Linked DNA regions of Homo sapiens: region 2 is linked to region 1. The links come from fine-mapping of genetic effects on gene expression. A gene starts in region 1. The other region holds a variant in brackets. All regions are shown on one strand. Distances are between the middles of the regions.

What was found.
Region 2: its variant is fine-mapped to the expression of ELAC2 in CD4 T cells (BLUEPRINT, PIP 0.95).

What each region holds. Positions count from the first base shown.
Region 1 is chr17:13,016,049-13,021,421 of GRCh38, reverse strand. ELAC2 (elaC ribonuclease Z 2) reads left to right here and starts at 3,395. Exons shown (of 24, transcript NM_018127.7): 1 at 3,395-3,719; 2 at 4,301-4,351; 3 at 4,490-4,560. The coding sequence starts at 3,475. RefSeq lists a silencer at 3,278-3,357 and enhancers at 3,878-3,937, 3,958-4,067, 3,579-4,079.
Region 2 is chr17:12,987,969-12,993,341 of GRCh38, reverse strand. It overlaps ARHGAP44 (Rho GTPase activating protein 44), which reads right to left. Exons shown (of 21, transcript NM_014859.6): 21 at 1,699-3,310. The coding sequence ends at 3,171. It overlaps ELAC2 (elaC ribonuclease Z 2), which reads left to right. Exons shown (of 24, transcript NM_018127.7): 24 at 297-1,730. The coding sequence ends at 524. Among named protein-coding and RNA genes, the nearest start is that of ELAC2, 27 kb to the left of the region's middle. The variant G/T (reference allele first, on the strand shown) is at 2,459.

The sequences.
Region 1 (5,373 bases):
ACTTTGATACTTCTCCCCTCAAGAGGTAGAATATAATTTTCCTCCCTTTGAATCTAGGTGGGTGCTGTCTGTGTCTTGCGTTGACTTCTGGGCCTAATTCTTCAGAAGCATTGCAATTTCATTTCATCCTTTTGGAGGCTGACCACCATTCAGAGAAGCTCAGCCTAACTACTGAATGTGGACAGTCTACATGGATGGAGAGGCAATGGGAAATGAACCAAAGCACCCCCAGCAGGGCCAGTACCCAGGACCCACACCTGTGAGTGTGAGGTTCCACTCCCATTGAGCCACCCAGCAGCCACTGCAAGGAGCAGAGACAGGCTATTCTTACTAAACACAACCGTGACCAACAAAAGGACTGAAAGTGATTTCAAGCCACAAGCTGCCCATATACAAAATGGATAACAAAAAGAGACTCAAAGCAAGAGGAAGTGGCTGTATTATATTAATTGTTAATATCACTGACTTCTGAAAGTCTGTCGCCTCGATTTCCACTTTCTCTGCTGTCCCGATGGTCAGGCTGCCTCTACTCCAGCAAGTCCAGAGACACTTTTCTGTTTCAGACTCTCTGAACTATCCTTTTGGAGGTACCAGTCACACCAATCCCCTTCAGAAAACACATACATTGTTGTCTTGATTCAATTTTAGGCCCTGCTTAGTTGTAAACTGAAAACCTCATTTAAGCTACTGGCTTGCTTCTAATTTCCTAGTATTTATTGTCTGCCACAAGCCAGACTCTGTCCTAGGAGCTAATGATACAGCAGAGGACCAGATAGACAAATCCCAGGCTCATGAAATTTACATTCCAGTATAACCTCAGATTGAAGAAGTACTAGCTATTGTCTTCATATACCAGGAATAAAAATATGACCCAAAGCATAAGTGCAGAAAGTACACTGGGCCCTAGAAACAACCTAAATAGCATCCAGCCCTCAGAATTTTATATAAGTCGATGACCAAAAGTGATTCCTCCTATAATTTTGAGATAAGTAGTTTGAGATTACCCAACAGATAGATATGCACATAGGGCACCAATAAAATAGAGGAACCAATGTATTTTTGTTTGTGAAATTTGATATATTTTTTAAAAGGATCAAAGCAGTCATCACAGGAAAAAAATCAGTATTTTATTTATTGCACTACACTTTTTAAAAGTAGTTTTAATGAATTAATTTTCTTTTTCTTTTTTTTTTTTTTTTTTTTTTGTAGAGAGTGTCTCACTCTGTCAGCCAGGCTGGAGTAAAGTGGTATGATCATAGCTCACTGCAGCCTCAAACCCCTGGGTTCATGTGATCCTCCTGTCTCAGCCTTCAGAGTAGCTGGGACAACAGGTGTGTGCCACCATGTCCAGCTAATTTTTACTTATTTTTAAATTTTTTAGTATTTTTTGGTAGAGATGAGGTCTCGCTTTGTTGCCAGAGCTGGTTTGTTTGTTTGTTTTTGAGATGGAATCTCCCTCTGTCACCCAGGCTGGAGTGCAATGGTGTGATCTTGGCTCACTGCAACCTCTGTCTCTGGGGTTCAAGTGATTCTCCTGCCTCAACCTCCCCAGTAGCTGGGATTACAGGCCCATGCAACCACTCCCGGCTAATTTTTGTGTTTTTAGTAGAGACGGGGTTTCATCATGTTGGCCAGGCTGGTCTCGAACTCCTGACCTCAGGTGATCCACCTGCCTCGGCCTCCCAAAGTGCTGGGATTACAGGCATAAGCCACCATGCCTGGCCACAGAGCAGGTTTTGAACTACTAGCCTGAAGCTATTCTCCCGCCTTGGCCTCCCAAAGTGCTGGGATTACAGATATGTGCCACGGTGCCCAGGCTTTAAGCAACTTTTAAAAACTATCATTTTTATTTCAAATACTTATGGAGATGGTGGTATGATAATCTTTTCAGTTTGTAACGCCCTCTAACTGTGTAAAGTAGATCTGAAGTGTTTTCCTGACCCTCACTGGGATGGTTATTTCAAGTACAAAACGTTTTCACACCGTGGGTGATAATCTTCCATAAAAAATTTCATATTTGAATGAAAACAGCTCAAGAAATACACTAATGAGCAAAAATATATGGGGAAAGAGGAACGTGTAGTTTTGACTTAACTGAAGAAACCAAGAGGAAACTGGTCTCCATATGAAAATGTGATCCTGGAAAGTCAGGTGTCAAGATTTTCGAGTAGGAATCTACATGACTTGAATCTCCCTTACTTCCTGAATAAAAGTGACATCTTTCAGTATTTATTTAAAAAAATCATATGTCAGTGGAGCTTCCAGGTAAATTATCTTTAAAAAATCATATTTGAGTGGAGCTTCCAGGTAAATTATCTTCCTCTTTTAAGGGAGCTCCCTGTATTTCTAGCGGCTTTAACTGATATCCCTTTCAGTGAGAAATCCTCATTAGCTACATAAGAGGGGACTGGGTGTTTTTTTCAAAAAGCTGGTATTGGGACATCTACCTCTGTGATGTCCCTGGTCAGCTATATTGTCTAGGAGTTGAAACATTTTGTATTAATTTTCTATCATTTACTGGGTGCCTCTTCTGTGACAGTGCCACTCAAAGGTCTATTGATATATTATCAGGTGACTGAATTCTATATTCTGAAGTAGGAGATACTGTTATTGCTGTTATTACATTTTACACATAAGAAAGCTGAGGCTCTGAGAGGTCAAGATCACGCAGCTAACAAATGAGCCAAGACTCTTGCTTTAGAGCTTGTCCTCTATTCTTGCTTTTCTTTCCAAAAAACACTACAATTTTTGTTTTGTTTTGTTTTGTTTTGAGACAGGGTCTCGAGGTGTCACCCAGGCTGGAGTGCAGTGGCGCGATTTCGACTCACCGCAACCTCCGCCTCCGCGCTTAAGCGATTCTCCTGCCTCAGCCTCCCAAGTAGCTGGGACTACAAGCTCGGGACACCACGTAAAAATGATCAAGTTCTAACATGTATGCATACGAATTACAATGGAAATAAAATTAGCAAAGCGCTTATGCTAATGCTCAATACAATTGATTTCCTCACATTTAATCCTCACAACCACTACAACCACCTCTAACTCAAGCTCTGAGGGACTGACGTGCCCGGAGGACACAGCTCTTATCTGGTGAGAACAGGAGCGTTTTAGCGAAACTCCAAACTCCTAGGTCCCGCCTTCCCCAGGAAGGCTTTTCCTGGCACTGTGCTTCCGGAAGTCCCGCCCCAGGAGAAAAACAGCTTCCGGAAAAAATTGCGGCCGGCAAACCGGAACAGAACTAGGGGCGGGGCCGCTTGAGACGCTCTAGTATTCCTCTACTCTATGGCCACTGTCAATTGACAAGTCCCGAGCGGTAAAGCTCCTTTCTATTGGATGAGCAGCCTCGCGTAGGCGGGAAGCTCGGTGCACGGCGCGCTGATTGGCTGGATCCGCCATGCGGAGCGGCTAGGTGGTGCACGGGAAACGCGGGCGTAGGTGACCGGCGGCTTTCTCAGTTTTGGTGGAGACGGGCGCATGTGGGCGCTTTGCTCGCTGCTGCGGTCCGCGGCCGGACGCACCATGTCGCAGGGACGCACCATATCGCAGGCACCCGCCCGCCGCGAGCGGCCGCGCAAGGACCCGCTGCGGCACCTGCGCACGCGAGAGAAGCGCGGACCGTCGGGGTGCTCCGGCGGCCCAAACACCGTGTACCTGCAGGTGGTGGCAGCGGGTAGCCGGGACTCGGGCGCCGCGCTCTACGTCTTCTCCGAGTTCAACCGGTCAGTCAACGAGCCACGCCCCGTCCCGCTGGGCCCTCAGTGCGGCGCAGCCTCTGAGCATCGGGGCACCTCCCAGGGCTTCGGCTTCCCTGCTTCACACATGTGGTTCACTGTTGCGGGGGTTCGTGGAGTTATGGTGGGTGGGAAATCCGAGATTCTTTGCATCCATGTGATTTCTGCGGATCTGTGAAGAACTTCAGGCCTGGGTCTGAGCGTCCTTTTCCCAACCCTTGGGCCCCGGCCTGGCTGTCAGCACTTTCGGAGCTCCACCCTCTTCCGTGCACCCCAAGGCCAGTGTGTCGTTGTTAGCGTGTGGGGTGGACAGATCTGGTGTGTAGCCGGTGGTGGAGAAAGGACTCATTTTGTCCTAGCACCCACACACACAGGCCCCCACTCCTCTCCACCTCTGCTAAGGAGGGCTCAAAACCCACCAGCATAAATGTGGCTCGGTAGTCCAACGTGGACTTTTAATTTTTTTTTCTTTTTTTTTTTTCCAGAGTCTACAATAAAACATCTAATTGGTGTCAGAGAGTTTACAGAATAAAACCTTCTGAATGTCTTGTGTAATGTTTGTCTTGTAGGTATCTCTTCAACTGTGGAGAAGGCGTTCAGAGACTCATGCAGGAGCACAAGTGAGTCAGTCTCTTGCTTTCGGAGGGGGAGTTGATTACGGGGCTTGAAAGCCGAAATGAGAGGCCAGTTGTTTTTTATAGCAAAAGTGGTCCTTGTTCTGTTCATGTTATCCTGTTTAAATGTTTTTTCATTCTTAGGTTAAAGGTTGCTCGCCTGGACAACATATTCCTGACACGAATGCACTGGTCTAATGTTGGGGGCTTAAGTGGTGAGTATATTCTTTGCAGTGTCAGAGGCTGGTGGGAAGTCTCTGGGATTTTAACCGGCTTTACCATTTTTCCAAGTCTGGGGTGGGCAGCTACTTTTTTTTTTTTTTTTTTTTTTGTCAGTGGCGTGATCTTGGCTCACTGCAACCTTTGCCTTCTGGGCTCAGGTGATCCCCTCACCTCAGCCTCCCAAATAGCTGGGACCACACGTGTGCCCCATCACACCTGGCTAATTTTTTTTGTATGTTTTGTAGCGACGGGGTTTTGCTATGTTGCCCAGGCTGGTCTCAAACTTCTGCGATCCTCCTGTCTCGGCCTCCCAGAGTGCTGGGATTACAGGCATGAGCCACCGCACCTGGCCTGGAATTCTTTTTATACCAGCCCAGTCAGCAGCAGCACAGAGCATTAAAAGCTGTGACTCAGGAGAACAGATTTTAATATGGATACCACCTCTTAAGTGTTACCATCCACTTAGTTTCTTGCGTTGCGGGGACAGAGATTTGTGGCAGTAAACTGGAGAGTCTAGCAGTGGTGATTACAGTTAATATGTTTACCGCAGACGCCATTGGCACATTGGCAGCCACACACATACCCACTGTCCAGATTACCCTGTCATTTATGTCTATCAACCGGAAGGTCAGGATTGTGTTGCAGCCAAATTGTGTGGGCTTGGTGGCATGGACCGGAAGGAGTGAAGTGTTAGACCAGTCTCCCTTCTCAGGGCTGAGACTAGGGTGAGGCACTTAGGGTGCCAGCCCTTCACTTGCATGATTCCTTACATTTTGCACACTGGGTGCCTTGCTGCTTCACCCTAG
Region 2 (5,373 bases), 28 kb after region 1:
GAATGAAGGGGCAGAGCCGGAGCCAGGCCTCGTTTTTCAGGAGCTTGATTTTGAGAGCATCTGGACTGCTCTCCCTTCCCTCTCCGGAGGCCCTTAGCCAGGCCTGGGGAGCCTCTGCCCCTTTAGAGGGTTCCCTCCATGCCATTCTTTTTTCCATTTCAGCTGTGGCCTGTTGGCTTGTGCCAAGGAAGGGGCGTTGGCGCTGCTGTGTGAGCACATGACTGCATCCCTTCCAGCTCCTGTCCCCCACCCCTGCCCCTCTGAGACATGTCCTTGTCTTCTATTGTGTCTTCTAGGTCTGCTTTGGAGACTTTCCAACAATGCCCAAGCTGATTCCCCCACTGAAAGCCCTGTTTGCTGGCGACATCGAGGAGATGGAGGAGCGCAGGGAGAAGCGGGAGCTGCGGCAGGTGCGGGCGGCCCTCCTGTCCAGGGAGCTGGCAGGCGGCCTGGAGGATGGGGAGCCTCAGCAGAAGCGGGCCCACACAGAGGAGCCACAGGCCAAGAAGGTCAGAGCCCAGTGAAGATCTGGGAGACCCTGAACTCAGAAGGCTGTGTGTCTTCTGCCCCACGCACGCACCCGTATCTGCCCTCCTTGCTGGTAGAAGCTGAAGAGCACGGTCCCCCAGGAGGCAGCTCAGGATAGGTGGTATGGAGCTGTGCCGAGGCTTGGGCTCCCACATAAGCACTAGTCTATAGATGCCTCTTAGGACTGGTGCCTGGCACAGCCGCGGGCCAGGAGGCTGCCACACGGAAGCAAGCAGATGAACTAATTTCATTTCAAGGCAGTTTTTAAAGAAGTCTTGGAAACAGACGGCGGCACCTTTCCTCTAATCCAGCAAAGTGATTCCCTGCACACCAGAGACAAGCAGAGTAACAGGATCAGTGGGTCTAAGTGTCCGAGACTTAACGAAAATAGTATTTCAGCTGCAATAAAGATTGAGTTTGCAATTGTGAGTTCTTTTGCTTCCTCCTGCTGCTGCTACAGAGCAGGGTCTGCTGTGCACCACCTTGGAGAAGGCTCTCTGTGCTGTAGTGTGGCAGCTGCCTGGTACCCGGGTGGCTTGGAAGAAGTCAGCTCCCGTCGTAGTGAGCACCTCTGGAACCTGTCCTCAGAGAGCCACCCTTATTCGCCAAGTCTTTTTGACAACTCGAGCTGTGCCAGCTCACAGCAGGGCGTGCTTTCTCTATCAATCAATCAATCAATCAATCAAATCAATCAGTGAGAGCCTGGCTGGGCTGGTGTCATTGGTCAGGGAAATGCAAGTCTTCTGGTGGTTCTGGGTAAAAGTGGAGACAATAGATTTGCTGTGTTGTTGCTTCCATACTGAGAGGAGTGAGGATCACTTTGCCCTCGAAGGTTTTGAGAAATGGCACACGGGGCTGGTTTCCATTGTCCTCCTTGCGGGATTTACAGACGTGGATTAGTGCTCGACAAATGGAGAGCATTTTCCAAGGAAGTAAGTAAGTAAAGTAAGTAAGTAAGTAAGTAAGTTGAATCTAGTATTTATTGTGTATATTCCCTACCCAGGAGAATGTAAAAAGAAGAGCTTTAAAAACTCAAAAGACAAGCAAGCGAGAGATCAGCCAGGGACCTGGCTTTACACAGGTGGTGACCTTCAGGCTCCATCCCGGTGTGCATTTGAGATTGACGGCCATGTCCCCGCAGGTTTATTAAAGCAAGAACAGATGCCAAGCTCAGGGATAATAAATCTATTTTAATAACGTTACTTTTGACAACGATTTGTACATGTATTTAAAGATAACAACTTTCAACCCCCACCCTTACCCCAGACTCCCATTACAAATTGAGGCATGACCTGCCCTTGCCAGGAAGTGAGCAAAGCTGCAACATCAAAACTCTGCACATCCCACTCTCAGAGGAGGGTGACTTTACACTGTGTTGGGAAAAATAACTAAGCATTTAAATTTTTCATTGTACACCTGTACATTGGTTTAGATTGAATGGCTCAAATTAAACAAATATAGAGAGATTTCATATATACAAATATTATATCATGTATAGGTATATTATATCATCTATTTGAAAAGGATAAAATTTTAAACTTTGACTTTGCATGCATGGCCCAAATCTTTTCTCACTCCCCTAATCCCCAAGTGTGAAAAGGCTACCCGGTGCCCTCCCGGCCCTCGTCCCCATGACCAGATGGGACTTCATGAGAAGGAAATGAGCGGCTGACGCTGGTGAGCAAAGCAGGCCACACCGCAGGCCGAGCCCGTGGGCCAGCGTCTCCGTGGCTGGTTTCACTTTTCCTCCACATGCTTTGGGTAACGTAATTATTGCTATTCAGTTTGAACCTCCAGAAAGAAGAGACAGGCTCCAGGACCCCACAGACTAGTGAACTGGGTGCCTTTAGGTACGTAGAGGGGTAAAATTACTCTCATATAGCCAATATATTTGGGGACAGGGAGGCCACCTTTGGCTCCTCCAGACACT[G/T]TCAGGCTTGTTTGTTTTGTTTTATAGATTCAGAAATATAAAATGATATAGGAGCTTTCAGTCACACAGTGGAAAAAGGAAAACTGTTAGGAAGTGAAACATTTTTGTTTTCAGCCATTTACTTTGGAGCCCACTGATGGGGGCGGCCTGAAAGGTTTTCCAGTGGCAAGCCCTCCCCCAGGTAGCTGGCAAAGGTCAGTGCCCCAGGACTGCTAGAATCCTGGACCTGGTCCAGTTGTGGGTGAGAGGGGCCCTGCTGTCCTGCTTCCTTTCTGTGGCCATTAAACTGATCCTGCAAGACCTGACATGAGCCGTCCAAGGAAAAGGTAGCAGCCCTTGGGTCTAACCAGGCAAAGTGAGCCTCTCCCGCACCACCCCGACCCTGCAAAGGACGTTCCTGACCAGCCTTGGATGGAGAGGTGGGTGTTTTCTGGCATGGAGGCTGAAAGTGGATCAAAAGAGGCACAAAGTCAAAAGGCAAAGGTCAAACAAAAGGCCGAAGTCACCACCCGAAAGGAACAAACAAAACCTGCACCACCAGCATCACCACACGGACTGGAGATCACAATTTTCTGCCAAATTCCAACCTCGTGTTGGCAGTGGCAGGAAAGAGCCAGCAGAGAACACTTGGCAAGCTCATGGACGCTGCTCCTGGCGGCGTTCCTAGGGCCCGTGATGTATGTACACGCGAGGCAGGATGGGCGGTGTCATGTCAGAGGGCGGTGCTCTCAGACTCCTCCTCCGAGTCCCTCTTGTCAGTTACTGAGTGTCGCCGCATGTGCTCCAGGGGACTCAGGCGGAGCGTCGACCCGAGCTCTATGTGGATCGAGGGAATATCAAAGTGGACAAGATCTGGAAGGCGGCAGAGAGAGAGGTGGTTGAAAGGAGGCTTCCCGGCAAATGAGAACCTAGTTGTAGGCAAATAATGTCAGCCTTAGGAGGCAGGGGTGCTGCTATTCTAGGGATAGATCATTTGGAGGTTGGTTTAAGCATTGTGTTGCACAGTCGATCAGGTTGTGCTCATGCCTGCTTTGCTTCTACCCCATAAGTTCGTAGAACCAAAGCACCCAGGATACGCCACTGTGGTTCAGAGGAAGGCCAGAACAGCACTCCCCTGCCAAGCCACAGGGTCCTTTATTCTTGATAAGAAGGATGCTGAGTAGGTCTCAATGACACCTTTTTGGGGATCTATATCAGACGACTGCATTTCATTCCCCAGAATCTGCAGGGACAGGACGTGAGACAGTGGACCCCTTTCTCCTCTCAAGCCTGTGAGAGAATGGGGAACCCTGAGCCAGTGTCCTCACTCTAAGAAACAGCTGCATTTTGGATGGCTGACATGGGTGGAGTAGAAGGTCTCCCTCAGGACCCTGGTTGTCATTGGTGCCAACTGTCCCTGACTGCAGGACAACCCCCACCTCTGGTTACATCCTTATTTATTAGGAGCATTAAAAGGTCATTTTTCCCGGCAAGATGAACAGGAGAAATGTACTTGAAATAACAGCTCAGTGTCTGGACGTCTCTGAGTCGGCAAAGACGACAGAAGTCCTTAGACTGGCAGCTGAGTGGACACGAAGCCTCTTTGCCACACCACGTTAAAAAAAATCCCCTTGCTGCTGCAGCCGCCGCCCTGGGGGACACTGACGAGGCTGTGCTTGCTGACTCCTCCAGGATGTGCTACAGCCAGAGAGCCAGAAAACCACAGATCCCCTGGGTCCTTTACTCTCGTCATGCTGTCCCCTTCCTCCGCCTGCTTAGTTTTTTTTTTTTTTTTTTTTTTTTGGGGGGGGTGGAGTTTCGCTCTTGTCACACAGACTGGAGTGCAATGGCACAATCTCGGCTCACTGCAACCTCTGCCTCCTGGGTTCAAGCGATTCTCCTGCCTCAGCCTCCCGAGTAGCTGGGATTACAGGCACCCACCACCATGCCCGGCTAATTTTTTTTTTTTTTTTTTTTTTGGTGTTTTTAGTAGAGATTGGGTTTCACCATGTTGGCCAGGCTGGTCTCGAACTCATGACCTCAGGTGATTCACCCACTTCAGCCTCCCAAAGTTTTGGGATTACAGGCGTGAGCAACCACGCCCGGCCTGCCTGCTTAGTTTCTGGCCGTCACTTAGCTTTGCAAGGCTGGGAGCAGCACTCCAGGAGGCAGAGGAAGGGAACACATGTTCAGACTGGGGAATACCATACTAAGTGTACAGACATACATTTGGACACTGTCCTGAAAGACATCATACAAACATGGAAGCTCTTGAACAAAGGTCCTCCCTTGCCCCAACCCCCAGGCAGCCCTCACGTCCTTCCAGTCTTTGTTTTGCTGCCTGATGGAGAAGCAGAGATTTGGGGCGTGGGGCTGGAGGAACAGCCAGTGCCACTTGTTCCTCTGAAGCAGGTGGCCTCAGACCCACCTCTGCCCTTCCCCAGCTACTTGGGTCATGTCTCTACACAGGTGTGAGGCTGAGTGGCCCGGGGCCCACCTCACTGTGCAGGGTTCGCTATCAGGTAAGAGCACCAAGCTCCCCTGCTTAGATTCAAAAATCCCAAATATGTCAGGCAGGAAGAGCATGACCTTGGACAAGTTTCCTACCTTCCCTGTGCCTCAGCAGTCAAATGGGAATAATACAGGGCGGTGATGAATTTAGACAGGCCCAGAACAAGCACTTGTGTGAGCTGTCATACCTTTATCCTTGCTGCTCCCTTAAAGACACCCCCAAGGGAGGAGTCACTATGCAAGGGAATGGGATTCAGGGGCAGAAGCCCTCATCAGCATTCCTGGGAAAAGGGACACAGTGGCTGCTTGTCTCCAGGACACTCGGGAAGCACCCGCCAGGAGACCTGTCTGTGAGCACCAGATATCCTGGTGCGCCTCGGTAGTCTCTGCAGGACCATGGGCCAAATCGGGGAGAAGACCTGGTT